Linked DNA regions of Homo sapiens. The protein of the gene in region 4 purifies or fractionates together with the protein of the main gene of each other region. This does not show direct contact. Each region holds a gene or a part of one and is shown on either strand. Other genes may lie near its edges. The genes, in order: ITPRID2, PASK, B3GALNT2, SFRP4, ATAD2, UCK2 and ANKRD17.

Region 1 (4,452 bases), on a different chromosome or scaffold from region 4:
TTTCAACAACTACTATATGCTAACAGAAGGCATGGAAATCTCAGGTTCTAGAAATTAGTACAATATCAACTACAATAGGTGTATCCACAAGGACATTAGTCTTTCTTCCCCTATCCTCTCACAAATATCTCAAACACGGGAAAGCAGGTTACCACTACCCTTAGGATATTGAAGGCATACAAGTTTACTTAGTAAAACACTATCTATGACTAATCTTATCTACACTGGTTCACAAAACAGATACAAGGTACACAGCAGTAGAATCAAAACCTAATTTTAAAAAATATAAGTTGAGAAGACTTTGAATGAAAAGCTTTTTGAGGTGTGCTAAGACAAAATGAACTTTTACCTCTCCTCCTCAGTCATATGATGATAAACCATGGTTTGCTGACGCAGCATTGCCAATTCTAAATCCATCATTTGTGTTCTAAACAAATTCAGGCTCCGCCTCATTACCTGGAGCTCCTGAAAAGTATTCTAGAATGCAATATAACAAAATTACACTTCTAAATTCTACAAATTATTTTGGAACACAAAGATGTAAGAAAGAACTTACTTCATAAAGAGGTAGAACAGATGATTTCTGAGTACTATATGGAGCAGCAGCAGGATCAGGTCCTCTCATCATAGGGTACTTCAAAAAAGTAAAAGTAGGATTAAAACCAATGTTAAAGTGAATACTTCCAAATCACTTAAGGGGTTAAAAGGCAGAATTTGGGGCCTATATATTTTTCTCTTTAAGACAAAAGGATCCAAAAAACCTTCATATTGTAAGCAGGAAAAAAGAAATCAGTTCCCAATGACACCTAGTACTGCTAGCTGTTCCAGGTATAAGTCAATCTACGTGGGAGGAGGAGGCGAAGGAACATAGTTCACATCTATTTCTTTCAGGACTTCCCTCTTGCGAAACTAAAAAAAAACAAAATCAAAACGCAAAAATGTAGAAGCCATTGCAAATATCATCATGAGATTATAGTGATTATTAACTTTGCTGGAGAGCAAGCAATCATTGTCGTCTTTCTCAGACATCTTAGCATTTCCTATATGCCACTATTTTAGGCAGTGAGATAAAAACATAAAAGGTATTCCCAGCCTTCAGGTGTTCTCACAGTGTAAAGAAAAATAAAGGAAATTTTAAAAAAATTCTAATACTGTGGAAGGAGTGCTATGATGAACACAGAAAAATTCAGATTACGTGAACTTTCCCAAAAGTGGTAACACTACTTGAACTGAGCCTTAACAGTAAATAGGGCTTGATTATGCAAAGAAAGGCAAAGACTGGGTGATCTCGGTTAAAAAAAAGTGGCTTATAGTCCCAGTACTTTGGGAGGCCAAGGCAGGAGGATCACTTGAGCCCAGGAGTTCAAGACTGCAGGGAGCCATGATTACACCACTGTCTCCAGCACTCCACGTGGGCGAGAAACAGAAACTTCATCTTTTTATTTTAAAAAAACAAAACACAAAATCAGCCATGTGCAGATACCTAAGAACACACAACTGTTTAGAGACCTGTGCACAATCCTACAGCTAAGGAATGAGGCTGGAGAGATAGTCAGAGACCACATCATAGAAAGCACCTGTCCACTAGTGTAGGGTGGGGTAGGCATGGGGAGATGTATTAGCTGAGTTATTGCTGGGATATCCAGGAGAAAGAGACCACAGCTGGAGCAGAAGAACTAGGTGGCCTAGAAAGATGCACCACGGTACTGGTGGACAGGGTCCTGGAAATCCCCAGCTTGACATAATCACAGCTGCAAGTTCCATCACAGACAGAACTATATTTTGTAAGGAGGAATAAGAAACACCCACATTCTGTTTAAACAGAAAACTGTTAGGGGACAATTGTCATGAGGATAAAACTTACAGTTAAGAGGAGGTATATCTTATTATAACTTGAGAAGTTACACCTTTGATTTTTACTTTCCAAGTGGCTCCCTGTCTACTATGTCATGATAAGAGGTCTATTACATTCATTCTAGGCCTCCTGACTCTTTGTTGAATGCTCTCATGACTATATTACATTGTCATTTTCTTCAATCCCTCAATTGTCTAAACATGATTCATTCAGAGAGAATGTTCAAGAAAATGTAAAAGGCAAAACTGAAGACAACGTACTTATTTTCAAAATTTTTTTGGGAAAATTATTTCCAGTCTACTAACAAATCTGAGAATGACTTTAAAAGTGACAAGACATACAGAGCATTTTAAATCAAATTCACACTTTACCTGATTTGTTATTTTCTGGTCTGGAGTAGTTCCAGTCTTTGAGTCCAGTGGAAGTAGACTAACTCTGTGCACAGCATCGAGGGTCAGTAGGTGAAGGGGAAAGCTTAGTCAGAGAGCTACGAGCAGAACCAGGAGAACGTGGTGCCACAGAAGCCAACAGGGAGAAAACTTGGAAAAGGAAAAGGTAGTCAACATGTTCAAATAGCAGAGAGAAAGAGAGAAAGAACTTTAAGAGGGAAGATTTTTTAATAATAGAAATGACAAAAGATTCTAGACTAAAACAAAGACAGTGGATGATAGACTAAAAATGGGAGGATACTTAACGAGAAAAATCTCTCCTCTTGGAAAGGAGACAGACTTGTGAGCAGAGAAATCGACTTTGATCAGGGTTAGTTACAGCTTCTCCCTTGAAACAGGAGGGAAGATAGAAAACGAAGGCAGATGCAGATTAAGTTTAGACATGTCAGAAAATAAAGCTGAGGTAGTTCATACTTGATGTGCCTTAGCTTCTCTGTGAATTAAAAAGTGCTCAGAGCAGTAAAAGAAAAAAGCTAATGATAACATACTTTTTCTCATACCTGTGAAAGATTCTGCAGTGAGTTTCTAATATCATGTAATACTCTTCGCAACTGCATTTCTATGGCTGAAGGAGGATTCACAGAGCACACTCGGTAAGGGTAGGTGGCATGTCTATGTGAGTAAGGACACCCGAAAGGGGAAGCGAAGGCACTACAAGTAGCCCCTGATATGTTGGGAACACTGTGAGTGCTCAGAGTTCTTGTGTGCTCACACAGGGGCCTTTCTTGCCACTCAGAGTGGATGGAATGAAGGGAACAGGTAGACTGAGACATTGGTGGTGGAGCAAGCCGTGAACAGGTAGGAGTCCTTCCATGATGGCATTCCTCCACCCGCGGCGCCTCACTCTGGGGGGCTTCTTCTTTCTTCACAGATGATGGAGAGATGAAAATGGTCGATTTAACTAAAGACTGACCATCATGTTCCATCACCCGCTTTTCCAATTCCTGCTCCTCTTCAGGTGTGTACTTATAGGTGAAGGAAGGTGGGCTGCATCTGGTCTCTTTTCCTGGAGATAATCGAACATTGACAGAGGACACAACCCTTACTGGGCTCAATAAGGTGGTTGGTAAAGACTGAGACCTTCTTAGAGGATAGCCAGCTTTTGCAAATAAGTACCTTTGTTTTAACAAATCTTTTGATTTTAGCAGGCTACGCCCCATCCTTTGATTAGACAGACTGCAAACCTTCATTTGAGCTCTTTGCAAAGCTGTATTAACTCTGTCCATGGAAGAGGGAGGCCCAGTTGTATTTTCAGAGCTCATATCACTGCATTTAGCTTCAATAGAAGCCAATGATTTCAGAATATGGTGTGTGGTATACTGAGTAAATTCACTTTCACTGCTTTTACCCACATCACTTTCAGCACTTGCTTCCCTCAGTAGCTCTACTGTCTCTGCTGGAAACAAATCCTCTTCCACTTCAGTAATTTCAATGATATGATCCCCTGGACTACAGGTGGACTGTTTAGTTCCTGTATTCTCAATGGTGTTGCACTGAGGGAAATCCTGGCTACCTGATTTTCTTTTGTCTGCAACTGCTGCTGCCTTCTCTAGTCCCTTCTGAAGAGGGACAAGAGACTCCTCCTCTGATTCATTAAAATAAGGCTGGTCTTGTGCTGTTGGTGTGGCAAGGTCTTCACCAAGTGACGTAACTGTTGTCTCACTGTCACAACTATCAGCACTACTCCCCATAGCCTGCAAGGACTCCTGAACCTGTGAAAAGAAAATAGGTGGAAAGATGAAGAATATATGTAAGAAGAGTCACTAACAAAATACCAAACCAACATGGTGCTTCTATAATTTCACTGTCTCCACTGCAGTTGTGGCCCTGCTGTTGCTCAAAATTGTTTTATTGCTCCTGAGCAGCAACCACATCCCTCCTTCCTCTCACTTTCTCACAAAGATTATTTCAGAACTTCACTGTTTTCCTAAAATTCCCTTTCCAACAACCTCCCCCTTTCCTTTCAATACAACACACTGACTCATAGAGAAAATGGACAAACACTTCCTAACATTCTTCCCCAACATCTAAAAACTTCCTTGTATCTCTCCCCATCATTCCCTCCTTCTCTCCATTCTGAAAGGAAACTCAAAGCGAATCCCTCCAACCTGGGTTCCTGATCATATCCTCTCCAAGACCAGGGTATCT
Region 2 (4,452 bases), on a different chromosome or scaffold from region 4:
GTGAAGCCCACTCCCAAGGGCGCTGTGTGCCTCCCAGCCCACCCCTCCCTGCAGTATCCTGGGCACTCTCCACAGGGCCCTCCGCTCTACACCCTCAGACACTCCAGTGCACAAGCTCAGCTCCAACACCCTCCTACTCCAGTGTCGAAGTGCTCCTTGACCTGGAGACCAGACTCCCAGCCACCATTTCCCGCAGCTCTATGCCCCACTTCCCCATTTTCCAGGTCTACCCCAACTTCAAGCACACAGCCTGCTGTCTCCCCAAGTGCCTCCATCAGACAGCCCCTGAAAGGCAAGTGACGCTTCCTTCCTCACCATGGCCCAGTCCTTTGGGGTGCCTGGACAAAGGAGGCACCAACGGAATCTGGACATAGGAGGCACCAACAGACTTCTGCCCCATGATTCTTGGTCCACCAGCTAAACCGCGTTTAGCTCAGTAAACTGCACGAGCAAAGCTGCAATTCCCTAAGTAAAATAGCCTAACCTAGAACAGCGTTCTCACATACTCTAAAGTAAGAAATAACATTTTGTTGTAACTTGACCCTGAAATGTGAAGGTGAGTTCCACCTGCTGCCTGAAAAGAAGCGCCAGCTGCCTGGGAATCACAGCAGAGTAAAAGCAGCAGGAAGGGTCCTGCCGGAGTCATCTGCCAGCATGAGCCGAGCACTTAAACCACGAACTTTTCTCTGCAGGAATAGAGTGACTTCAATCCCTGGTGAGAGGGTTTCCATGAGAACACAGAGCAACTCCACATTTGTATTTCCACGCGCTAAGGCCTGCAGTGGTCGAAGGTCATTACCAGAGAGCGCTGTCCTGCTCTGGCAGAGTCTGGAAAGCCCATTCCTTCTGCTCAGGTGTCTGTGGGCTGAGGAAAACGACCTGCTGGGCTCAGCAGTGGTCTGTGCAGCTGGGCCCTCTGCTGACACTGGCAAGGGGAGGCTCTGGGAAAGGCATCTCTGGTCCTCTTCAAAGGCTGTTAAGCCCCCGTCCTCCATGGGAAGAAGGGAGGCCAACTGCCAAGCTTCCAACTCTAACAACTAGAAAACAACATGAAGCTGATTAACATCTGCAATGCAAAAACACAAAGACAGTTTAACCAACTAATTTATAATGCTGAGTTCAGCTCGGCCCCAAAAGACATACACCACCAACCGCCATCCTGGGTCAGAACCCGCAATGGGAGAATGGTCCACCCAAAGTGGTGCTAAAAGAAGCTCTTTCCGGGCCAGGCACGGTGGCGCACGCCTGTCATCCCAGCACTTTGGGAGGCTGAGGAGGGCGGATCACGAGGTCAGGAGATCGAGGAGATCGAGACCATCCTGACTAACACTGTGAAACTCCGTCTCCACTAAAAATACAAAAAATTAGCCGGGCATGGTGGCGGGTGCCTGTAGTCCCAGCTACTCGGGAGGCTGAGGCAGAAGAATGGTGTGAACCCGGGAGGCAGAGCTTGCAGTGAGCCGAGATCACACCACTGCACTCCAGCCTGGGCGATAGAGAGAGACTCCATGTCAAAAAAAAAGAAAAAAAAAAAGAAGCTCTTTCCAAGAAAAATACATAGGAAGATATGGGAAAGAGGGAAGGAGAGAGAGAGGAAAACAAAGAACAGGGTGGGAAGGAGCCATGAGGGAAGGCAGGGACTGCAGGTACACACCAACTGAAAATACTCCCAGGTCATGATGAACCCATCAGCACGTGGGGGCTGCACAGCTCCCATGGTCTCAGCTTTCCCCTAAACAGTGAGTCCTGACCATCCGACCAGCTGTGCACAGAATCACCTGGGTGCTGCCAACAAGTGAGGTCGCGGGGGCCATGGCCAAGAGGCCATGTCTCCTAGAGACAGGCCTGGCACCAGAGATTTGTATTTTTAGCTTTTCTCTTATACATGATTCAAATGCTGATACAGGGTGGAAATACAGGAAAATCTCACATACTCTTCCGAGTTCCCTCTCATGGTGACATCTTACAGGAGAGTGTCACAGCCAGGAAACTGACTTGATACCATCCATCAGCCTCGTCCAGATTTCAAGGCATTTACCTGCAGGTGTGTGTGTGTGTGGGTGTGCGTGTGTGTCCGTGCGTGTGTGTGCGTGTGCACATGTGTACATGAGCGTGTGTGTGTGCGCGCATGTGAGCACGTGTTCCATGCAGTCTTGTCACATGTATACATTCATGTGACCACCCTGCAGAGTGGAGATACTTAAGAGTTCCATCCTGCATATTGGCAAGCACTTGAAACACAAGTACACATTTACCAATACCCTGTCCTCATGGCCAAACTCAACAAAAAGAGCCCTTAAAGCAAGAAGATTTCCTCTACTGGCAGGAAGCCCCCACCTGGTCATCCAGGCTTTAGATAAACAGCAAGAGGAGGCTGTGGCCAATACCAGAACCATGGCTGGAGTTTCCCCCACGAAATGAGGAGACCCTGGGGCCAAGGCAAGCCCAACCACACCCCATATACCCTCTTCTGGACCACCTTCTGGGTATCCAGAACCCCAGAGTTCCCAGCCAAAGGGTCTGGTGCCCACTTCTAAGACACACACAGGCCTCTTTCCACCCAGGTCCTCCCACACTGGCACACCTATAGCCGTGAACTGGCTGAGGAGCAGCCTTCCAGGAATAGCGAGCTTGGACAAGCTAGCAGGATGCCCACACGAGGCCCTTCCAAGACAAGGCAGGCCTGGGGTGAAGAGGAAAGGGGAGGTGGCCCTCCCAACACCACCTCTTCCAATATGGAACTCCAAGGAGTCCCCCCTCCTTGCCTTATCCTAGCATCTGGTGGCTACTGGCCATACTGGCCATCTTTGGTGTTCTTGACCTGCAGCTGCGTCACTCCAGTCTCCGCCTTCGCCATCACAGAGCTTCTCCCTGTTTGTTTGTTTCTTTTTTTTGAGACAGAGTCTCGCTGTGTCGCCCAGGGTGGAGTGCAGTGGCGCGACTTCGGCTCACTGCAACCTCCGCCTCCCGGGTTCACGCCATTCTCCTGCCTCAGCCTCCCGAGTAGCTGGGACTACAGGCAGCCGCCACCACGCCTGGCTAATTTTTGGTATTTTTAGTAGAGTCAGGGTTTCACCGTGTTAGCCAAGATGGTCTCGATCTCCTGACCTCGTGATCCACCTGCTGCGGCCTCCCAAACTGCTGGGATTACAGGCGTGAGCCACCGCGCCCGGCCGACTTCTCCCTGTTTGTATGTATCTTCACATGGCCATCTTTTTTTTTAACTAGGAGATGAGGTCTCACTATGGTGCCCAGGGCATAAAAGATCTGATCTGTGGAAGTCAAAACACTAAACTTTTTAGCCAGGCAGGTCTCGTGGCCTGCACCTATAGTCCGAGCCACTCTAGAAGCTAAGGCAGGATAATTGCTTGAGCCCAGGGAGATGGAGGCCAGCCTAGGCAACAAAGCGAGACCTGTCAAACCAAATAAAATATAAAATAAAATCACTAAGTTTTTAGGAGAAAAGAGGCTATCTGTAAGACTTTGGGGTAGGGAAAGTTTTCTTAAACAAGGCACAAAAAACTCTAGCTATAAAATAAGATTAATAAGTTTAACGTTAAAATTGAGAACACATCACACCTGTAATCCCAGCACTTTGGGAGGCCGAGGCAAGCAGATCACGAGGTCAAGAGATCAAGACCATCCTGACCAATGTGGTGAAACCCCATCTCTACTAAAAAAAAAAAAATTAGCTGAGCATGGTGGCACACACCTGTATTCCCAGCTACTCTGGAGGCAGAGGCAGGAGAATCGCTTGAACCTGGGAGGTGGAGGTTGTAATGAGCCGAGATGACACCACTGCCCTCCAGCCTGGCGACACAACCTGGCAGGTGGAGGTTGCAATGAGCTGAGATCACGCCACTGCACTCCAGCCTGGCGACACAGCGAGACTCCGTCCCCCCCAAAAAAAAGAAAAAAAAAAATGAGAACACAGCTTCACAAAGAATACCATAAAGAAAACGAAAGAACAAGCCACAATTTGGGAGAAGATATTTGCCACATACATAACCAACAGAAAATTAATATCCAGAATAGCTTTAAAAGATCAACTATTTAAAATTTAAACATTTTTAAAAGACACATGGCCCAATAAAAAATGTCAAGAAATAGGAACAAGCGTTTTACAGGAGAGGAAATCCTAATCATGATGATGTTATACCTACTAAGTCAGCAGAAATGAAGAATCTAGTAATACCCAATGTCAAAAAGGATTTGGATCAACAGGAACTCTTAATACATTAATATAATCTCTTTAGAAAACAATTCAAGTGAAACATTTGTCTATATGGATACAGCACTTTTCACTTAGATTTATATTTCAGAGAAATTTTTGCAAACAGATAAGAAGACACCAGAATGTTCGGGACAATATGGTTCTCAATGGCAAAGAGACAGGCAGAAAAAAGGGAGGGAAGAAAGGGAGGGAGTGCGGGAGAGAGGGAGGAAAAAAGG
Region 3 (4,452 bases), on a different chromosome or scaffold from region 4:
TGGTAAAATACATACATTTACAGATTGAAGAAACATGTAGCACGCCCTGAATAAAACAGACAAAGAAAAAGCACACCAGGCCTGGTGCGGTGCCTCACGCCTGTAATCCCAGCACTTTGGGAGGCTACTTGGGAGGCTGAGGCAGCACTCTGGGAGGCCGAGAAGGGCAGATCACTTGAGGTCAGGAGTTTGACACCAGCCTAGCCCACATGGCAAAATCCCATCTTTACTAAAAATACAAAAATTAGCCAGGTGTGGTGGCATGCACCTAGAATCCCAGCTACTTAGGAGTAATAAACCAAATACAGGAAAACGTTAATTGTTGTAGAATGTAGTTAGTGGCTATAGGGTTTACTGAATAATTCCTTCAAGTTTTCTTCATGTTTAAAACTAAAAAACAGATCCTTCAAATACATTTCCATGCTGCTACTTCACATGCACTCTGTGAACAAATCAGATTTCCCTACATATCGGGAATAGAGAAACCTCACTGGTTTTCTGTTTTCTGTAAAAGAATAACTTTTATTCCCTCTATATCCTTATTACAAAAAAGATTTGAAGCAGTTATTAGCCTTGTATTACAGACTTCTACAGTTGGAAGTAAGAGGCAATAATACTCACTTATCCTAAGAATCCTAAACTTTTTTTATATCCATTACCAACTTTTGAAATTCCCTAGGTTTTAGGGAATTTTAGGTTGGAGATTTCTAATCTAGTCAACTCCTTCTCTTCTAGATATAGCACATTTATTCACAGATAATCTATCCCCAAACCAGTCTTATATCACACTACAGTGTATTTAGTCAATAGGGGAAGAAAGGTGAAAGTCTCTCAACCAGAGAGAATTATATAGTCTTCCAATCTACTTACTGTATGTCACAAGGAAAAGTTGATGTTTTTGAAAAAGAAAAAAGAGAAAAAACCTGTACAGAGCAGTGCATACCTCTTGTTCTGCCTGATAAAGTTTGACAGTGATGTTCCTCTGGAAACCCACATCATTGGCATCGTAGAACACTCCAAGACTGGTAATAACGATGGGGTAGAGAACTCGGAAACTCACGCTGACAACTCGATCCTCAGGCAGCCCCGATGAAGTGTCTTCGGACAGACTGAACGCTTCAATTTCCTGATTCAAAACTAAGTAATGAGAACAGGTTTATATAACTGAACAAATGTAATCCTTTGTTTTACTAGTAAGAAGTAGTGAAGTGGGCTTAATGCCAAAACCTAGGTAATCATTTGCTATATAATTCACAAATGGCAGGAATTTTTAAAAAATGCTTGAGAAAAATGGCTGCTTCTATATAAACATTTTTGAAATTTAAGAATAAAGTTTTCAGCCACATCTAAGTAAGTTAATTATCAGAACTGCTTTAATAGCTTTTTGCATAAATGTGTGCATATATATGTATAAACGCCACAGGAGATATTAAATTTAAGTCAACTGGAAGGCATCTATTTGGAAGGGTTGGATAAATAGAAATAAGAAAAACAGTACTGACTGTAGTCATAAATAATCAGTAAATTTGGTCTTACTGTGCAAATTCCAAAAATCCTACTTCTTGTTAGGCAATTTAAAATACTTGTGATACATCAGGCAATTATTACGGTATAAATAAGCAACTGAAGTCACTTCAAATAACACTGAAAAACTCTTGCTGTACAGCACTGATAAAAGATAAGCATATCAAACACAGTTTTGAACCATCTTCTATGTACCATTTCCCATCACATTTATATCTTCACTACTACCCTTGTGGTTGTGGCATTATCTCCAGTTTACATATTAAGAAACTGAGGCCCAAAATTAAGCAATTCACCTAAGGTCATAGAAAGTGGCAGATCCAGGAATCAAGTCCCATTTAGTGATTCCAAAGTCAGTCCCCTTTCCACTCCCTCACAGCTGTCTAATCAGTGCCAAAACAGTTCAAATAATTTTTCTTTTATTTCTTTTTTTGAGACAGTCACCCAGTCACCCAGGCTGCAGTGCAGTGGCATGAACATGGCTTATTGCAGTCTCAACCTCCTTTGCTCAAGGGATCCTCCTGCCTCAGCCTCCTGAGTAGCTGGGACCGCAGGCACACACCACCAGGCCTTGCTAATTTTTTGTAGAGATGGGGGTCTCATCATGTTACCCAGGCTGGTCTTGAACTGCAATCCTCCCGCCTCAGCCTCCCAAAGTGCTGGGATTACAGGCATGAGCCACTGTGCCCAGCCTTCAAATAAATTTTCTAATTACCATAAATGAATCAGAATACATTAAATAAAGCAGTTCATAGGCAGGGAATATCAGTGCTACTTTAATAATATAAAACCCTATTTTAAAAGATTATATCAAAGTTCTTTGTATCTTTTAGAGCTGTGGTTTTCAAATTTTGCTGACTACACAACACCATCAGTTAAAAATATTTGTACACACACCTATTTACTTACAAAATATATGCATATATTGTGGTGAGTCTATATATTCAGTATTAATAAAGATTGTATTTTCTTATTTTCAGATAAATAGAAATTCTAAGCCTGGGCAACATGGTGAAACTCTGTCTCTACGATACAAAAATTAGCTGGGCGTGGTGGCACACACCTGTAATCCCACCTACTTGGGAGGCTGAGGCACGAGAATTGCTTGAGCCTGGGAGGAAGAGGCTGCAGTGACCTGAGATTGTGCCACTGCAGTGCAGCCTGGGCAACAGAGCAAGACCCTGTCTCAAAAAAAAAGAAATTACATTTTCTTCCTATACTCTAGGTCATTTGGTTGCCCACGTCAGACTTCCTAGAAGCTCTTTACACTCAGTAGATATTCAGTAAAATGGGATTAAAGGGAAGTGATGACTCCTACCTAATTATAGACATGAACAGGAGGGAAAAAAGGGAGAATACAGTTTTTTGTCATGGGCTGGGCAAGCACTAACTGGAGAGTCTAGACTACAACATAATGGACAACAATACAATTTTTTCTCTTTAAGATATTCAGTAAATAACAGATATCCATAGTAGAAACCTCTTTATTAAAAGCAATAAGTCAATTATAATATAGCATTTTTAGATATTTTCTTATCTAAAAGAATTGTGCCTTGAGCTTCAAGTTACGTGGACACAGGAAATCCCGTTGCATTACAGTGCTATTAAACCTTCTACCACAGCCACAGTATCACGATGATTAATGCTTACCATGACCTTCAGGTACTGAAATAACCATAACTGCCTTTGGATCATCGAAAAGATAAGATTAGGTTCAATATTAACTTAGTTATATACGCATTTAAAAATTCATAACCTAGGTATTACATATATGAAAATGTTCTTTTAACATAAAGTTCTACTTCTTTACTTTTAATAAATAACAGCACTTAAGATAATAAAAATATGGTTAATTTAAAAGTGAAGGGCTTCTTTTTGTTTTGGTTTGGTTTTCAATTGTAATTTGTTGGAGGATACATCAGTGGATACCACATCAGTGACATAACATTCTATGGGGTTTATGATCCCTTTAAGACTCCAGTGAGGCCAGGCGTGGTGGCTCACGCCTATAATCCCAGCACTTTGGGAGGCTGAGGGGGGTGGATCACGTGAGGTCAGGAGTTTGAGACTAGCCTGGCCAATGTGGTGAAACCCCATCTCTACTAAAAATAAGTCAGGCGTGGTGGCGGGCACCTGTAATTCTAGCTACTCGGGAGACTAAGGCAGGAGAATCGCTTGAACCTGGGAGGTGGAGGTTGCAGTGAGCCGAGATCGCGCCATTGCACTCCAGTCTGGGTGACAAGAGCGAAACTCTGTCTCCAAAAAAAAAAAAAAGACAAGACTCCAGTGAAAGCCAAAGGACTTTCTCCCCAGCACACAATTCATACATAAAATTTGCTTACAATGTTAACTGAATTCACAGACATCCTAAGTAAGAAACCTCTATTTTGTAATACAGACCTGAATATATTGTCCAATTTATTTAAAAAGCTGTTTGAAACCCAGCTTTATAAAATAGCAGGCTCTTTAAAATAATGTTCAGTACCTTCCACCTTCTAGGAACTATTATTCTAAATACATCATATGTATCAACTTATTTCATCCTTATGTCAATCCCCATGAGGGAGATTCTTTTATCCCAAGTTTACAGATGATAAAACTGAGGCAGAGGAGGTCACACAGCTAGAAAATGGCAAAGCTTGGATTGAGAGCCATGGAGACTGCTTATAAAAGTGAGGTGTTACTTAATTATACAGTTTTAACAAACCTTAAAATACCAGAAGTCCTAATCAGCATATTTAAGACTTGGAAGTATAACCTCCCTTAGAAACACAGCTGAACATAATGGGAATTGCTAATAAACACAGACAGTTAAAAACTTATCAACTTCCTAAAATTGGTTCCCTGGTGACACAGAGAACCTAGTTAGGATCAGCTTTCTTTCGTTGTCTTTGTTTTTGAGACAGGGTCTCGCTCTGTCACCCAGGC
Region 4 (4,452 bases):
AAATTATCTTAGTAAACAGATTTTTATTACAAAAGTAAACAGCTAAAAATACAGAAATTGTAAAAAAATTATTCAATAATCCTTTACCCCATAATCCACACATCCACCATTTATATTTTATTGGTGTTTCCTTTCATTCCTCCTTGTAACAATATTAATTATATTTATTAGATCACATTGTGTATTGAGATGATCTGCTGATCTGCAAATTTCCTTTTGTCATTATATGATCTAAATTTTCTGATGTAATTAGAGTAATTTAAAAATATAATGTTAATAATATAATACTATGAATATGGATATCCATAATATATCTATCCATTTCTTTATTGCTGAATTCCCCTTTTGCTTAGCTATGATTACCAGTATTGCATTGAATAACCCTGTATACAGTAGTGTGCACTGGCTTATTATTTTCTTAGGACAGATTTTTAAAATAGAATAACTGAGTTAAAGGGTATGTATTTTTTAAAAAGATTTTCAATGCATAGTGCCAAGTTGTTTTCAAAATGGTTGCACTTTCATCCAATTCACTAACATTAAGAATTAGGTGAAAATGGAATCTTATTTTTATTTGGATTTAGAATTAAGGAGATAATTTTTTAAATGTTTACTTACTATCTGTATTCTATTTGTATTACTATTTGAACTTCTCTATATAAATTTCTGTATATATATTTCTATATCATGATCTCAATGTTTAAATATTAATTTTATGAACTCTTTAGTAAGATTACTATTTTTTCATATCTTTTCAAGTATGTTTCTCAATTTTTATTTGCCTTTCTATCATTATTTGTGATTTTTATATGTATAATATTATGCAGTCAGATATGTGTATTGATATTTTTCCTTGTAATTTCTTACATTACTTTTATGTTTACAAATTACTTTTCTTTTCAGATATAACATATTTAGTCACTAATTTTGTCCTTTTTTTAAAGTTCTTAGAATATTTATCTATTTAATCCATTTGAAAGTTATTGTAAAGCACAGTATAAAGTGAAAAGAATGTATTTTTTTACAAATAGGAATATTTTCAACATTTACCAAATAATACATTCATTTTCTATTGATGTGCCATATTTCCTTCATAATGAAAAGCTGTATTTTATGCATTAAAACCTGTTTCAAGAGTTTTTCCTCTGTTTCATTTATCTTTACGTCTACTATTGCATCACATGGTTTTAACAAGTGTAACTTTACACCAGGTTTGCGGGTCTCATAAGGCAGATTTCCTCTCTTATTTTCAGAATTGTCTTTACATACCCTTACCAATTTATTAGAATCATTTGTGAGGACATAAATCCCAATTATCCAAAACTATTTTTACTGGGATGGATTATAATCCATTCATCTCTCCAGATAGAATGTAATGACCAACAACCTGGTATCCCCAACTGGATCTCTAGCACTGCAGCAGATGCAAACACCTTGGTAGAGATGAGTCCAGAATCACTGATTGCTTCTTTAGGGAGACAAGATATACGCAGAATCTGGCTTTAAAACCAAGAACTCAAGGTGATATCCATGTTGTAAGGAGGGCACCCAAGTACTGATAGAATACAGAAAAGTGGAGTTAGTTCCCAAAGATGTTTTTGGTTTCTTTTCAGAGGAATAGTCTTAGGTTATATCTAGAAGAAACAGATGAGCATTAACAGCAGAGAATGGGAGGGATGCCTTGTTATGTAAAACTGAGTGATTTTGCTGGAGAAGTATACTGCATCAACTTATGGGGCCCAACATGGAGGCTGGGCTCAAGAGTTTGACTTTATATTACAAGTAATGTACCAATATCCAAAAAAAATAAGAAAGAAAGAGAGGCCAGGGAGACAAATACACACAGCTAGAATTTGTGTGTATGTGTATGAGTGTGTGTGAAGCATATATTTATTTGTTTATACATTGCCTTGTGATGATTTGAATTGAGAATCACATATCCGATTCAGAAATCACCTTAAAGTGTGTGTGTGTGCATGCGTGTTTGTTTGCAATACTCTATCAAATATTATGAAGTGTTTATATGGAAAATATGTGGAACTATAGTCTCAACTCCCTACTTACTTGATCTGTAAGCTATTAAAGTGGCCTTAAAAGTTCAGTATGTGCCACTCTAAAATTGTTTGAATGATTTGAAAAGAATTGTTCTTCCTTAAAATAATTGACTTGCTGTAAATTTTGAAGTCACTTAATGAATTTTGAAACTGATTTTTAAAGACTCTATTCAAATACTCATATTTTGATTTTTCCTTCATTCTATGAAGAATTAATTGATAGAATATATGCTATTCAAACAGAGGCATCTGTTAAACTAATTTTTTTAAAAAGACTTTGGCATATTTTTGTTATATTTTTAAACCATGACTGCTAACTGAGATTGAGGTCTTCCTAACAGTGTGCATACAGTTCCTTCTGCCTCTTTGTGCCTACCTTGAGCGCCACTCGTAACACATGATGAGAACATCTTGATGGGGCAGGATGTGTGGACACTGGCAAGAAGAATTTGTAATGAGCGGGACTTGAGTTCGAGGGATGGGTGATGAGGACTTGAAGATCTCTTTTACATCCACCACCGTTGTGACCTCATTGCAGCCACTCCTCTGCACAGCTTTTATTTTGGCATGAATAACTGCAATTTAAAAATAGATAAAAGTGTTGTTGAAGGTTTTGGGGAAAAACTAGGGATGGTGTATTCATGCCAACTTCTGAGCCTCTCTTAAAGAATCACTCCTGTAATTATGGTTATGTCCAAGTGGCCTGAGTGCAGGCAAACAGCCCACACAGTCATATGCTAAATGGATGGTGTCCTATATTGTCAACATTGTCTTAAATGTTCCGGGGCATACTGCAAGATAGGAAAGCAAGCTGAAAAGCAGGTTTTAGTCTTTCTCTGCCTTTAGGTCAGTAAAAAATTCACAGAAACATATATTTGTATTCTTCCTTGTGGTGATTTGAAGTGGGGATCATATATATTCAGATCAGAAGTCATCTTAAGGTTTGCATTTCTTCAATCACTCATCTGATGCTTGAGCTTCTTCTGTTTTACAGAGATAGTCATTAGTCATAACATTTTTGAACTGGAGGGAGTCTCTGAGGACTACTGTTCTCAATCTTTTAACTTCACAGACTGACAAAGTAGACCCATGGTGAGCAGAGATAGAACTGTTATTACAGATGGCTGTTAATGTCACTGTCTCTGACCAAGTTTTAAATGCTGGTTTCTGTGGTCTCTTGCTATTACTGCCTCCCGTAGAGTTGTAATCAGCCTAATATGGCTCTGTCTTGGATTCCATTTCAGGAAGCCAGTTTATGAAGACACCAAAGGACTTGAATACAAAATGGTTTCTTCATCAAGGTCGTTCAAAGGCCATAACACCCCAGAGAATGACATGACAGTGAAACTCAGATTAATATCTCAGGCTGGATCTTGGCAGAGGAGGGACTAAGTAAATCAGATGAGGATGGTAGCTACATAGAGCAGGCTTTAAGAAAAAAAGCTACAGGAAAAGATAAACTACTTTTTGTTGTTGCTGAATTACCCCCATTGGCTAAATATGATTCTTAAATCTGATAGTTTTGTAACAGCTTATTTTTTTTCAGATTTCTACATTTCTGTGATCCTCCTACTTTCATGTCTGATATGTATCCTAAAGTTTCTTACTGATATAAAATTTCAATCTGCAAGATGAAAACTAAGTCAGCAAACAAAATAAGCATTTTCCCTAAAACCACTTTATGTTATTTCAGCAGAAATGATTTAAGACATGCAATGAAATATAAAGTAGGCAGCCCAAACAGACATTTTTAAAATGTCTGCCTTTTACATTTCTTTTTGAATTGAAAAAGAACATATGTTAATTAAATTTACTTTCAGATGACAATTGTGAAATTAAAATTACTTAAAACATTTCAAATTTCATGACTGACTTATTCATGGAAGAAAATGCTGAATGGTTCTTTCAAGTAAGAGAGAGGAGGGCATTTAAACTAGTTCGATAGTGTAACCATAGGATTTTGTGATTAACATTTTTTTCACAATTTATTTAAGATGTTAAATATTTGTAGCTAGTCACAAGTAAAAGGATATGCAGGCAGATCTTAATTGTCTGGGCCTATGGGCCTTAATTCTCTGACTCTCAGATAATCAGATCCATGGATCATTCTCTCATTCTTCCTGCAGCAGTAAAACCTCAGGAAGAGAACAGGTGGGGTGTGCCATCAGGGCTGATAAGCACTTCTCACCAAGACAAGGAGGATCAAGATGTCAAATTTTCAATCTGATGCATGTAATTTTTATCACCTGGGTCATTTCCTTTGTTTGCACTTGATTCATCCAGAAAAGCAAGATATTTTGCAGTTGTTATTGTGCCATATATTAATAGAATTCACATGATCAACTGGAAAAATAGTCAACCTTTTGTTTTCTTTACTTTGTGACTAGCTTTAGTGAGA
Region 5 (4,452 bases), on a different chromosome or scaffold from region 4:
TGTGCTCTATGGACACAAAGGTGACAAAAAATAGTCCCTAATTTCATGTACTTTACATTCTGATGGGGAAACAGAGTCAAGCAAATTAATATTTAATGGCAGGAGGCAATACAAATAAAGCAGGAAAAGGGAAAAGAGTGTGATGGGTGAAAGAGCTATTGCTATTATTGAGAAACTCTGATCAAAGAAGGCCTCCCTGAGGTGATATCTGAGCAGAGATTTGAGAAAAATAAAAAATGATGACAGGCAAGTATGTAAGAGAAGAGTATTCCAGGCAGAAGCAGTATGGCCTTTTGTTCACTATTGGCAGTTGTCTAAATTGGCACAAACTTGAATGAGTAATTTAATATTGTTAAAACTTGTAAATGTAAAATACTCTTTGATTCAGCTACAGCTATTCCACTTCTAGGAATCAAAACTAGAAAAATCCACATACCAGTGCTCATACTAACTAAAATACAAGGATGCTCACTGTAAGAGTCCAGTAGAAAAAAATCTGGAAAACAACCAAAAAACCTATCAATAGGGCTTTGGATAAATAAATTATAGTACATCAACAGTGGAAAAACCATGCAGCTCTTAAAGAGACTTTAGCACTAACAAATACATGAATACATTTATTGATAAATGAATAAAGCAAATTGCAGAATAGTATGTATCATATACTCCCATTTTTTAAATACTTTTTTTTTTTTTTTTTTTTTGAGACAGAGTCTCGCTCTGTCGCCCAGGCTGGAGTGCAGTGGCTCACTCGGCTCACTGCAAGCTCTGCCTCCAGGGTTCATGCCATTCTCCTGCTTCAGTCTCCCGAGTAGCTGGGACTGCAGGCGCCAGCCACCACGTCCAGCTAATTTTTTTTGTATTTTTAGTAGGGACAGGGTTTCACCCTGTTAGCCAGGATGGTCTCAATCTCCTGACCTCATGATCCACCCACCTCGGCCTCCCAAAGTGCTGGGATTACAGGCGTGAGCCACTGCACCCGGCATATAATACCATTTTTCAAGAGAAAAAATTTATGTATCCTTAATATATACATACACATATACATATACCATCTTGCCCAATGAGCACATATACCAAATAGTTACCAATGGTATATTTGATAAGAAAACTTATCCTTTTATTCACTTCTACAGCATTTGAATTTTTTCAATAAGTTATGATTATTGTGGTAGAAACAACTCTTTTTGAAAGTATAATGATACCGCCCCACATAAATTACCTCTTCTGGCAAAGCGGAATGGGGTTTGTCAGAAGTTGCAAGTAGTAAAACTGGAGCAAATGAAGGAATATTCTGTAATAATGTGGTAAATGTGGCTTTAAGTGTCGGTCCAACTATTTCCCACCACACGTGGATATGAGGAACATACACTATACTTGGTGCTGTTCTCTTAGCTTCACGAATCACCTAGTAGAGAGAGAACAAAACAAATTCAGTTAGAGTCAGCACGTTAATAATGCTAGTTCTATTAGTCTGAAACAATGTTTAACCTCCCAGGAGTAACATATAAAGTCCTCAAGTTTTTAAAATGCTTCTCCAAAATCCCACAACCTTATTTTTAAATGTGGATTAAAAGTTTCATTTTTTTGGAAAAAGATAATTTCTTCAAGCAACTAGAAAACAGCTGGAGAAATCTAGAAGATTTTTCTATTGTGGTAATCAAAAGTAAACAAAACTACAAATATAAAATATTTTTATGTTTTAAAAATGTTAATATAGCCAGGCGCGGTGGCTCATGCCTATAATCCACGCACTTTGGGAGGCCAAGGCGGGTGGACTGCCTGAGCCCAGGAGTTTGAGACCATCCTGGGCAACATGGTGAAACCCCGTCTCTATTAAAATACAAAAAAAAAAAAAAAAAAAAATTAGCTGGGTGTGGCGGCATGCATTGCACCTGTAGTCCCAGCTACTCGGGAGGCTAAGGCAGGAGAATTGCTTGAACCCGGAAGGCGGAGGTTGCAGGGAGCCAGGATCGTGCCACTGCACTCCAGCCTGGTGACACAGTAAGACTCCGTCTCAAAAAAACCAAAACCAAAAACAAACAAAAAAAAGTTAATATACAAATACCAAAAACAGAAACTGCAGAATATCTGAGTACTTACTAAGGAGCAGTCACCATTTTAAGTACTTTACTCATTTAATTCTCACAACAGCCATGTGAGGTAAGTAGTATTATCTCCATTTTCCAAAAGGGGAAAATTAGAGAGATCTAACAACTTTACTAAGGTCACAAAGATATTAAGGGTGAATGTGGGATTTAAAGTCATTCTCTTTAATGACTAAGCAATCATGCATAACTCTGTTTTGTAAACCTAAAGTTACAAATCAGAAAGACAAAAAAACACAATACAAAAAAATGGGGCAATTTTAGCTTTTGCCTCTGAAAGCCTGTTTTGTCTTATACTTGGGCACCAACAAATTACCTGGGCACATGTTTCTTCAGGGGATGTAGTACTAACTCCAAAAAGAACAGGAATGTCTAATGTATATACAGTAAACTTTTCCAAAGCATGAATGACAGCTGGTGCCAAGTGAGAACCTTGCCCAAATCCTGGTTCTCCTACTATCAATATTCTTGGTCGAAAAGACATAGGTTGGTAACAAGCATTTCTGAAAGAGAAATGATTAATAAGCTATGTTTTAGAAAAAACAGTTTAAATTTTCCCCCTAAATTGTCAACTATAAACTTTCATAAGTAAAAAGTCTTGCCAATAAGGCCAACCAATCATAACATGGTTCACATAGTTTCTGGAAACTGACCCCCAAAGGTTTTTAGGAATATTTTTATAGACTGTAATTTCTACTGTTGTGACAACTGTAACAACAAAAAATTTCTGGTAGTTTAATTTAAATAAAAAGCAGATTGGTTAGCACTTTTTATTTTTTCAACCACATCTCATTTATTTTTAGAAAATTTACACATGCAAAAAACATTGATTTGCAAGAAAAATATACCTATTCAAATGAAGAAAATTAAAATTGTCTTTTGCCTTATGAGAAGATTTCTGAGAAAGTCCATTTTCATAAACTGATGGAACATCATCATCACTGTAAGCCAAGTCACTTTCTAGCAGAGGACAAGAAATATCTATAAAACCAAAAAATTGTACATTAGTAACTTTTGGATTGCAAAGCAAATCTTTATTGCTTCAGTTACCAAGTCAGCATACTTCAATTAAATTTTTTCAAAGAATCAAAAATATTTGTGTAGATATGAATTAATAAGTAAATGTAAAAATGCACCCCAAACTTACAATAAGTTAAATTAAGGGCAATCCATGGAGTAAATTTCCTTCAAATATCCCAGGTAAAGCATTACCAAATTCTTTTCAAGAGATTCTTTTACAAATAAATATTTCTGGTATGTATGAAACATTTCACTTTACTGATTATAAAAACTAACTTTAAATGGTCAATCAAGTTTTATACCTGAGTCTAATGTTTTATTTGTTCTGAATTCTGCATGTGGAAATACTCTCTGCAGGGCTTCTAAAATCTTGTCAACAGTGTTTTGCAGGAGTGGTTTCACAACGGTGGACAGTGCCTGCCCAGGTGATGTCACAGCTCTTTGGGAGGCTGGTATCATCTTTTGCATAGCTACCTCGAAATCCTTAGCTGAGATATTAATTGAAGAGAGATCCAACTGCAGTTTCTCACTAGTGGTATAGATCTGTGGGTAGCGTCGTCGTAAAGCACATAAAGCAGCTTCAGCACATATTGATTTAATATCTGCTCCACAGTATCCTATCCAAAGCAACCAGGGGAAGAAAAGAACCAGCCGACCAAACAAAGAAACACAAAACTCTATTAGCATGACCATGGTTAAAAAAAAAATTAAAAATCAGCCTCGGAATATAGTTAGCAAATATTTAAGAGTAATAAGACCAAAATCTCTTTTACCCAGTAAACTTATAGGGTAGTAATGGCCATCAACAATCAATCAACTTTTAAGAGTGCAATACACAAGCACTAAGTATAGCACAGAGGTCAAAAGCAAGAGTTTTAAAATCACACAGACTAGATTCACATTCCAGTTTGTAATTTACTAGCTGTATGACCTTAGAAGATTCACATAATGCTCTCCAGCCATTTCTTCATCTGTAGAGATACTGCTACCTACATCACAGGAATGATGTGAAAATTACATGAAATAATATATGTAAAATGCTTAAAAGGATGACTACAAAATGGTCAGTAAAGAATAGCTATTATCTTATTATGATATAATAATATATTGTATTTTGTACAATTATATTATTATCTACTCTGCCCCTGATGGCCAATTTGTCAAATATCTCTATTTAATACCAAGACTTCATGAGAAGAAAATGCCACAAATAAGAGATAAGAAACAAATATAACCTTGTATTTCTTTATTAGTCTGGTGCAAAAGAAACTGTGGTTTTTGCCATTACTTTTACAGGCAAAAACCACAATTACTTTTGCACCAA
Region 6 (4,452 bases), on a different chromosome or scaffold from region 4:
GCTCTGTATGTTCGACCTCATGTCTGGCCCATCTTGAGTCCCAGGCTCATACAAAATCACCTTTGTTCAGATACAGATTCAATCAGTATTTAATGAGCCAAGCACTACTTGAAGCATTTGAAAATTCCTTCTTTCACATAAGCCCCACAATAACACTGCAAGGTAGTTATCAAGTCCCTACGTTCTAGATAGAAACAAGATTCCGAGAGGTTAAGCAACTTCCTCATGAGCAAAATAAAACTATTCCCCCCAACACACCAATACAGATACATACCCCCTTCAATGCCCGACTCACCCGGGTGGTCAAAGTTGAACTGGCCCTTCAGGGCTTTGGCCTTCTGCTCCGAGGTAAGGACACGGTAGAAGCTATCCTGGCTCAGGATGACCACCTGCTTCTGGCGATAGTCCACCTCATTCTGCCCCAGGAGCTGCACGATCTTAGCACACACGGAAGACTGTGAGGAGAGAAGAGAGCACCCAGGAATAAGAGAAAGGGCACGTGTGGTACAGAGGAAGTCCCGAGAGTAACCAAGCTGATGCACACCTTCCAAGAAGGGGCTCTGGAAGGAAGAATCCAAAGGCAGCTATCGTGCATGATGAGTTAAAGGGCTAAGGGATGCAGCCATAAAAAGAATAAGATCACGTCTCATGTGGGAACATGGATGGAGCTAGAGGACACTATCCTTAGCAAACTAACACAGGAACAGAAAACCAAATACTGCATGTTCCCACTTGTAAGTGGGAGCTAAATGATGAGAATGCATGGACACAGGGAGGGGAACAACACACACTGGGGCCTGCTGGAGGTGGCGGGTGGGAGGAAGCAGAGGATAAGGAAAAATAACTAATGGGTACTAGGCTTAATACCTGGGTGATGAAATAATCTGTATAACAAACCTCTGTGACACAAGTTTACCTATGTAACAAACCCCTGAACTTAAAAGTTAAATTAAAAAAAAAAAAAAAAAAAGGCTAACGGAGAAGAGTCCGCCTTACACGCCTGTGACAGAGAAGTCTTAGGATCCCCAAAGTTCCTTCCTCCCTTCCCTTAACACAGCTTACTACTGTCAGGTACTTGCAGTGATGGTGGGGGAAGGAGGGCAGCACACACCACCTCCTCCTCCAGAAGAGCCTTTCCCAGAGCCACTGATAAAGGTAGGGCTACCTGATCCTGTCTGCTTGTGCCCTGGTATAGACAGACAAAAAAGGCAGCAGAAAGTAGAATGAAGGCATGGTGATGATGTGCTGAGGGGCTACAGGGCCTTGGAATCACAAGGTGACTGCACATCCATGGAATGCCACTCAGCCCCTGCACATCTCTTTATATCAACGGAACCAAAAACCATGGCCAGAGAGCTCAGCTAGTTAGCAAGAAGGCTATGCTCACAGCGTTAATCCTACTTCTGTTGGTTACTTTTGCTCCAGTCCACAGCCATGACTTCACATCTACAGTAAACCAGGTGGCCTTTTCACAAACGTGTGTCACCACAGACAGGGTGACAAGGAACACAAACACCACCAACATCTAAAACAACTTAGGAGTATCCCAAACAAGAGTGGAGAAGCCAACTCCAAATGAACTCAAACCTACATGCTTTGTGTGTTGTTGTTAGTAATACATGTATCCTAAAATTTAAAAAAAAGAAAAACAGATAGTAATACATGTGTCTGCCCCTTTTTCCCTTCAATATACTCTTCGTAAAAGGAACATTATGAAACAAGTGCATTCAATAGAATGAGATAGTGAAGGATTGTATTTATCAAATAACTGATTTCTTTTTTCATTTCATACAAAGACTAATGTAAAAATAAAAATGTCTGTATTACACAAGCTGTAGGAGACATAACCCAAGTCTTCTAATGAAACTGATTGACCTGCCGGGCACGGTGGCCCATGCCTGTAATCCCATAACTTTGGGAGGCTGAAGGGGGTGGATTGCTTGAGGTCAGGAATTCGAGACCAGCCTGGGCAACACAGTGAGACCCCATCTCAAAAAAAAAAAAAAAAAAAAAAAAGAAGAAGAAAGAAACTGGTCAACCGAATAAATAGAAAGGAAAAACAGCATATTTAGGCCAGGCAGGGTAGCTCACACCTATAATCCCACAGTTTAAGAGGCCAAGGTGGGTGGATCACCTGAAGTCAGTTTGAGACTAGCCTGGCCAACATGGTGAAACCCTGCCTCTACTAAAAATACAAAAATTAGCCAGGCATGGTGGCACATGCCTGTAGTCCCAGCTACTCGGGAGGCTGAGCCAGGAAAATCGCCTGAACCCAAGACACAAAGGTTGCAGTCAGCTGAGATCGTGCCATGTACTCCAACCTGGGCAACAGAGTGAGACTGCATCAAAAAAAAAGAAAAAAGAGAAAAGAACAGAACAGAACAGAACAGAAAAACAGCATATTTAGAGGTTTGATGACTCAAATCTTAGAAGTTTTACTATTGAATTTATTTCATCAACGATTTTAACAACAACAACAACAAAAATATGAAATCTTTTAAAGTTACAATTCTTATAAAGTTGTGTTTGATTGCCCTGAGCGTAAGGAAAACTGGCCATTCCTGTTGCACAAGTCAGTGCAAACTAAACAGCTCTGCAAAATACGTCCTGTTATACAAGCTGTGACACACGACTAAGTAAGGATCTTTGGAGGAACAATAATATTTTGACTCAATTATTTGCAAACAATTTATTTCGCCTTCATGATACTTTTGCATATTAACACAGAAAAACATTTAAAACTACTCTGGACTTTGGGACCACAGATCCTCCCATGCCCCAAAATATCACAGAACAGTAAAACTTTCATATGATAAACTAGATTCAAAAGTGAAAATGTTACAAAACCAAGGCTCTCTGGGTGCTACAGATGGATGGGTGGGGGGGGAAATCAAAGGCTCTAAGCAATTATAAACTATAGGTTTTTAAACACCTGTAGGCCCTCAATTTCCTTTTCCTCCCAGGCATCTATCTTAGGACGTTTCTTACGTCCTAAGGTTGTAGGAAGATAAAGTCTGCAGCCTTTATTAGTAGATAGAATTCCTCCTAGAATTCCAAAGAACAAAAACAAAAAAGTGATTCACGAAGCCAAATGTATATTATCTAGTTATTCAAATTGTGATATTTTTATTTATATTTAAAACCCATAAAATGTTTTTAATGTAAATAGCAATCCCATCACCATCAAAAAAGCATATTAAAAAGTTACACTACCTAATTTTGCAGATAAACTACTGTTTCCCTTAACCCAGCACAATCTAGGACAGAACCTGTACAATGGCCAGTAAAATGGGATAATGAACATACAGTAGGTGCAATTCTAGAAAATCAGCGCTCATCCCAACCCTTGATCAATGATACAGTATGACTAATTGTGTTGATCCCCCGCTGCATGTTTCAGTCCTGTGTTTTCAAGGACCTGGCTGGTGACCCTTCCCTTCCACAAACACACTACCACTGCTAACAGTGTAAATGATTACTTATTAGGCAGCAGTCCCTGTGCCAAACACTCCATTATGACCACCTTTAGAAGCCACATGTGCTCTCCTACATGGATGAGGAAACCAAGTTAAGTAATGTGGTTTCATAGAGTCCTGGCTCTTTACCTCAACCTTAGATAGTAAGAAGTCCCAAGGCAGAAGAAGCCCTTTATCAGGAAGGAGATAAATAAAATTGCACAAATAAGCAAAGAAACACCTGCCTCTAGGTTAATCTAGATTGTTCAGGCATTTTCTTCCTCCTGGGCCATATTACAAATGGGCCCTAAAAAATCCGGATAACTGTTGAATCTGGCTGACATGTACATAGGGTTTGGTTATATCATCCTCTCTATTGTTGTGTAGGTTTGAATTTTTACCTGGTAGGGAAGAAGGCAGGGAGGGAAGGAGGAGTCCCACAAAGAGACTCTACTCTGCCCTGAATAAATGCTCTTTCGCTTACTTAACACTCACCTCTGTATCTCTTTCACTATCATCTCTGTGTTCTCCTTTTGCCTAATCCTGCCCCTCTCTTCAAAAGGATGAAATGGAGCTCTGAGGTGTCATCTTGTTCCTTAAGAATAATTCAGCTGGGCACAGTGGCGTGCACCTATAATCCCAGTGACTTGAGAAGCTAGGGCAGGAGGATCACTTGAGCCCAGGAGTTCAAGCCCAGGGTGGGCAACACTGTGAGACCCCACCTCTACACAAATTCAGAAATTATCTAGGCATGGTGTTTGTGCCTGTAGTCCCAGCTACGTGTGGCAGGCTAAGGCAGGAGGACTGCTTGAGCCCAGGAGATCAAGGCTGCAGTGAGCCATGATCATGCCACTGCACTCCAGCCTGGGCAACAGAGCAAGACTCTATCTCTAAAAAAATAAGAGAGAAAAAAAGAAAAGAAAGAGAAATAATCCACCAATAACCAGGGTTTGAGAAGGCAGGCAATCCTGAGCCTATAGAAATCTAAAATGGGAAA
Region 7 (4,452 bases), on a different chromosome or scaffold from region 4:
AATTAAAACATCCCACAGGGATCTACTGTAAATAATAGCTGCAACCAAGTTCTGTTACCTCAAGACTTGAAGTCCCAAAGATTTCCCACAGTAGGTGGCTAATAAAGAAATATTTATGAGTTATTCTTACTACAGAGATGGGACTTCATGAGAACCTAGCAGAGATACAAAGACTTACATAAGACACATGGTACTGTATAGCAGGAGATATACAGATGAGTAAGACAAGGCTTTTGCTTTCAGATATGACAGTCCACAGCACACAATGTAAACTGCTTCATTAATTAAAGGGCAAAACATGAAGATATAAGAGAAAAGAGAGTAGGCATAAGGCTGGTTTACCAGAAAGATGTGATCAATCTTGGACCCACTATTTCACAAATAAGCCTTCTTTGTTACCACATCATCTGCTTAGTTAGAAGCAGTTTCCAAACTCTTAATAATCCAAATAAATGACCAAATTCCCCACTAAATCTGTAGTGAGAATGTTTCAAAGTAACAAGGTAGGAGGGAGAGGGTGGGGGTCACAGAACTCTTTGAGGATCTAATGAAAATCCTGCACATATGGGGCTAGAGCAGAAAGGAAGAAAAATAAAGCCTTATAAGCACCTTCAACAAAATCTTTTGTTTAATATCAGAGGATTCACAGCCTAGCCAGACCCCAAGTTAACAATCTCTATTTAAAAGAAACATTTTTTTTTTCAAATTAATAAGGAGAGATTACCTTGAAAAGTAAATATTTTGAAAGGCAAGGAATAAGTGGTAAATCGCCTCTAGAAAGGGTGGTTTTTCAGTATGAAGTTTTCATCTTGTTAACAACTTAATTCTAGGTGGTGGGAATATGGATTATTTTTCTATACTTTTCTGTATTTCTTGCTTTCTTTTTCTTTAGTGAGTTTTTCAGAAGAACTGGAAAGAAAACTTGGGGTGACCAACTTGTCTTCAATGGCCGTCCAACTGCAAAAAAGCGTCTCCCCTTATACAAGCCGAATGTGCCAATATCTGAAATATGGTACTCAACACCATACAGCATAACAGAGCATGTGAATGAGTGAGAGAATAAATGAATGAATGAGGAGGCGTAGAATCTAACAGTCCCAGGTTCAATCCCATTCTGACATTTATTAGCTATGTGACCCTGATGAGGTTGCCTAAAATCCTTCTATGCCAGTATGTTTACCTGTAAAATGAATGCTCCCTGCCAACATTTGTATACTTTGAAACTCACACATTATTCAAGATGTACATTTAACCACTTAAGCTCACTCTCACACCTCCCCAAACTTATAATATTTATTCATTGGTGTATTTTTAAATCAAGGTGACTTACAAGTTTTGTTCACCATTGCTCACGCAGTACAGCACAATACCTAGCACATAGTAGGAACTCCAAACATTTATTGAATAATGAAAGAAATATAGCAGCACCTACTTCATAGGGTTATGGCAAGAATAAAATGAGAATACGAGAAAATTGTATTAACTCATTTAACTCTCATAACAATGTTATAAGGTAGAATCTACTATCATTACCATTTATACCATTTACATGAGGAAATTGCAGTAGAGATTTAAAAACTCGGCCAAGGTCACAATGCTAGTAAATGATGGATCAAGGATTTAAATCCAAGCTCCAAAATCCATACTTTTAACCTTTACCTAGACTTCACAAACAGTAGGTACTGAATAAGTATTCATTTTTATTTACTCTTTAAAAATTTTAGGAGGCTTAAGGTACTTACCAGGCATTCATCAATTCCTATTAGTTTAACTGGCTCTCCCCTTAATACTTAGAGAAGATCATCATCACTACGAAAAGGAATTAAGAAATTGGAAAATGTTGAAATCTGAACTTCAGCTATTCAGAAGCCCTGGATCCAAGAAGGGAAGAATTTCCATTCCTTCTCTTCTTTCCCTAAATGAATGCTGAATCCTCCCTAAGTACTAGTTATTCACTAAAAATGTTTTGTTTTTTTCTAGTACTGTGCTTAAGCAGGAGAGAAGACAAGATAAATTATAATTAAGACAGACTACTGCTTCAAAGATCTTAAAATCTAGTTTACAAATACTGCTACATCAATTAAGAGATGAAACAAGCAAGCTTCTCTGGGCTAATCTAGGATTCTAAGCATTACAAAAAAGGAATTTAGATAGCACTTTTCCAATAAAAAACAAACAAGAATATTTCCAAATGAAGCTGAACACAGCCTAATTCTGAAATATTTTTTCTTTCTCCCTCATTTTCAACTCTCTTTTTCTGTCTGTAAACAGATCCTCCCTGGCCTTGCAAATCCTTTCAATACTAAGTCAGTACTAATTTATTTACCGGCTCCCTTTGTCTAAAATTTCTTCACTAGGTTTATCTCTTGATTTAGTCACAGGTTACTTACAAAAACAGATGAAATTCTGATCAACTCCTACTGTATTTATACTTTAAGCATCTTCAACAAAAATGTTTCTCCCCCTTTGAATTCTGCCTTAGAAAATACTAAGATTGCAGTGCGCAGTGTGGCTCAGACCTGTAATCTCAGCACTCTGGGAGGCTGAGGCCAGTGGATCACCTGAGGTCAGGAGTTCAAGACTACCCTGGCCAACATGGTGAAACCCTGTCTCTAATAAAAATACAAAAATTAGCCAGGCCTGGTGGCGGATGCCTGTAATTCCAGCTACTCGGGAAGCTGAGGCAGGAAAATCATTTGAACCCGGGAGGTGGAAGTTGCAGTGAGCCGAGATCAGACTGTTGCACTCCAGCCTGGGCAACAAGAGCGAAACTCCGTCTCCAAAAAAAAAAAAAGAAAGAAAAAATACTAAGATCATTCAGTCATATTCAAAAATGCATTCAATAGAATGCAATGTTATTTCTAAAATAAAGTATCAACTCTTGAAATTATAAGATTTTTTTCTTGTAATAGTCAAAAGCAATTTAATTAATTTTGTCCACTAATTTGAAAGAGCATCATGGCTTTTATGTTAGAAAATATATTTGTATTTTCCATATTGGTCAGTCACTCACTGAAAACCAAGAAAATTATGCATTTTCAATTTTAAATGTAAGATTTTGTGTCAAATAGATGGGGAGAGGGAGGCAAGTAGCTCTTGGTCTTATTTGTTTCCAGGTATACCCGAAGTTATGCAAATTATCTAAGACGTGATTACCCTATTCTGAAATACTTTAAAGTAAAATCCTATTCTCAATAACCTACTCCAATGTCTAGAAATTATATTCTTATTGTTCAACAATTAAATGAAGCTCTTATTTGAATTGATTCTCGTTTCCTTCCATTTTTCCTCTTTTGGCAGATACAGAGATTATTCAGATAGCATTTCTTTATAGCAAAGCTATGTATTTTTGTTAAATTAAAGTTATCCTTTCAGGTTAAATACCACAAAACCATAACCTTTCACATTCCTTTTTAATCTTTTGATGATTTTTACTGGAAGGATAATTTTAAAGATCATTTTATCTACTTTTTTTTATTGTGTAGCCTATAACAGAATGAATTAGAGAAAAGACAACACTGTGATTTTAGCCACAAGACTTCCTAGCTCCAGAAAGTTAGGCTTCTGCTGACATGTCAGTAAAATGGTAATTAAGAGAAAAACATTACACAACTCACCCATTTAGCTTACAGTTTTATTTGTCTTTACTTTGATCAAAAGATGAAGATGGGGCAGAGACAATCTGTACTCCTTTTTGTCTGCTCATCCCTCATCTGTATAGATTTTTTAAATGGGTACACTTTTTTTTTTTTGAGACAGAGTCTCGTTCTTGTTGCCCAGGCTGGACTGCAATGGTGCAATCTCAGCTCACTGCAACCTCCACCTCCCGGGTTCAAGCAATTCTCCTGCCTCAGCCTCCCAAGTAGCTGAGATTACAGGCATCTGCCACCACACTCGGCTAATTTTTTTGTATTTTTAGTAGAGATGGGGTTTCACCATGTTGGCCAGGCTGGTCTCAAACTCCTGACCTCAGGTGATCCGCCCGCCTCGGTCTCCCAAAGTGCTGGGATTACAGGCGTGAGCTACCACGCCCGGCCAATGGGCACACTTTCTTACACGTATTTCTCCTGACTCATCTTCATAAATGACAAACCCATTGTTTAACACCATGTAAAAGACAGGATAAGGTATGTTAAAAACATAGAAATACTACCATAGTTGGTGAAAGTCAACATAACCATTCCTATATTACAAAAGGAAAACAAACCTGACCCACAAAATAAACATACCTACAAACTTACAGCCATTCTTCATGATTTAAGGAATTACTAAAAGTTCTGCTTATTAGGCCGCATTCCAATGGACAAAACTACCTAGGTATGTTAAGTTTGCAGCAGAATATCCCAGTAAGTACTGCATTCAACTATCATAACCTTGCTCTAAACCAGAGCTTAATAGTTTCACGAGAATTTAAAATTTTAAGTAATGGTATTTTGCCTATAGCTGCATGAT

The links.
Region 1: the proteins of SFRP4 (region 4) and ITPRID2 purify together in Homo sapiens (co-immunoprecipitation; one large-scale study listed by IntAct). This does not show direct contact.
Region 2: the proteins of SFRP4 (region 4) and PASK purify together in Homo sapiens (affinity purification with mass spectrometry; 2 studies listed by BioGRID and IntAct, with this or other methods). This does not show direct contact.
Region 3: the proteins of SFRP4 (region 4) and B3GALNT2 purify together in Homo sapiens (affinity purification with mass spectrometry; 2 studies listed by BioGRID and IntAct, with this or other methods). This does not show direct contact.
Region 5: the proteins of SFRP4 (region 4) and ATAD2 purify together in Homo sapiens (co-immunoprecipitation; one large-scale study listed by IntAct). This does not show direct contact.
Region 6: the proteins of SFRP4 (region 4) and UCK2 purify together in Homo sapiens (co-immunoprecipitation; one large-scale study listed by IntAct). This does not show direct contact.
Region 7: the proteins of SFRP4 (region 4) and ANKRD17 purify together in Homo sapiens (affinity purification with mass spectrometry; 3 studies listed by BioGRID and IntAct, with this or other methods). This does not show direct contact.

The regions. Positions count from the first base shown.
Region 1 is NC_000002.12:181,914,780-181,919,231, reverse strand, and holds part of ITPRID2 (protein ITPRID2), read right to left. Parts: intron 4,017-4,452; coding exon 2,805-4,016; exon of another isoform or gene 2,633-2,804; coding exon of another isoform or gene 2,546-2,632; exon of another isoform or gene 2,395-2,545; coding exon of another isoform or gene 2,335-2,394; exon of another isoform or gene 2,227-2,334; intron 910-2,226; exon of another isoform or gene 762-909; intron 635-761; coding exon 557-634; intron 478-556; coding exon 350-477; intron 1-349.
Region 2 is NC_000002.12:241,142,038-241,146,489, forward strand, and holds part of PASK (PAS domain-containing serine/threonine-protein kinase), read right to left. Parts: intron 1,038-4,452; coding exon of another isoform or gene 996-1,037; coding exon 800-995; intron 1-799. UniProt on the Homo sapiens protein: Serine/threonine-protein kinase involved in energy homeostasis and protein translation. Phosphorylates EEF1A1, GYS1, PDX1 and RPS6.
Region 3 is NC_000001.11:235,483,379-235,487,830, forward strand, and holds part of B3GALNT2 (UDP-GalNAc:beta-1,3-N-acetylgalactosaminyltransferase 2), read right to left. Parts: intron 1,138-4,452; coding exon 944-1,137; intron 1-943. UniProt on the Homo sapiens protein: Beta-1,3-N-acetylgalactosaminyltransferase that synthesizes a unique carbohydrate structure, GalNAc-beta-1-3GlcNAc, on N- and O-glycans. Has no galactose nor galactosaminyl transferase activity toward any acceptor substrate.
Region 4 is NC_000007.14:37,909,689-37,914,140, forward strand, and holds part of SFRP4 (secreted frizzled-related protein 4 precursor), read right to left. Parts: intron 2,630-4,452; coding exon 2,431-2,629; intron 1-2,430.
Region 5 is NC_000008.11:123,343,662-123,348,113, forward strand, and holds part of ATAD2 (ATPase family AAA domain-containing protein 2), read right to left. Parts: exon of another isoform or gene 4,373-4,452; intron 3,746-4,372; coding exon 3,431-3,745; intron 3,090-3,430; coding exon 2,957-3,089; intron 2,612-2,956; coding exon 2,425-2,611; intron 1,409-2,424; coding exon 1,223-1,408; intron 1-1,222. UniProt on the Homo sapiens protein: May be a transcriptional coactivator of the nuclear receptor ESR1 required to induce the expression of a subset of estradiol target genes, such as CCND1, MYC and E2F1.
Region 6 is NC_000001.11:165,886,207-165,890,658, reverse strand, and holds part of UCK2 (uridine-cytidine kinase 2), read right to left. Parts: intron 456-4,452; coding exon 296-455; intron 1-295. UniProt on the Homo sapiens protein: Phosphorylates uridine and cytidine to uridine monophosphate and cytidine monophosphate. Does not phosphorylate deoxyribonucleosides or purine ribonucleosides. Can use ATP or GTP as a phosphate donor.
Region 7 is NC_000004.12:73,251,989-73,256,440, forward strand, and holds part of ANKRD17 (ankyrin repeat domain-containing protein 17), read right to left. Parts: intron 1-4,452.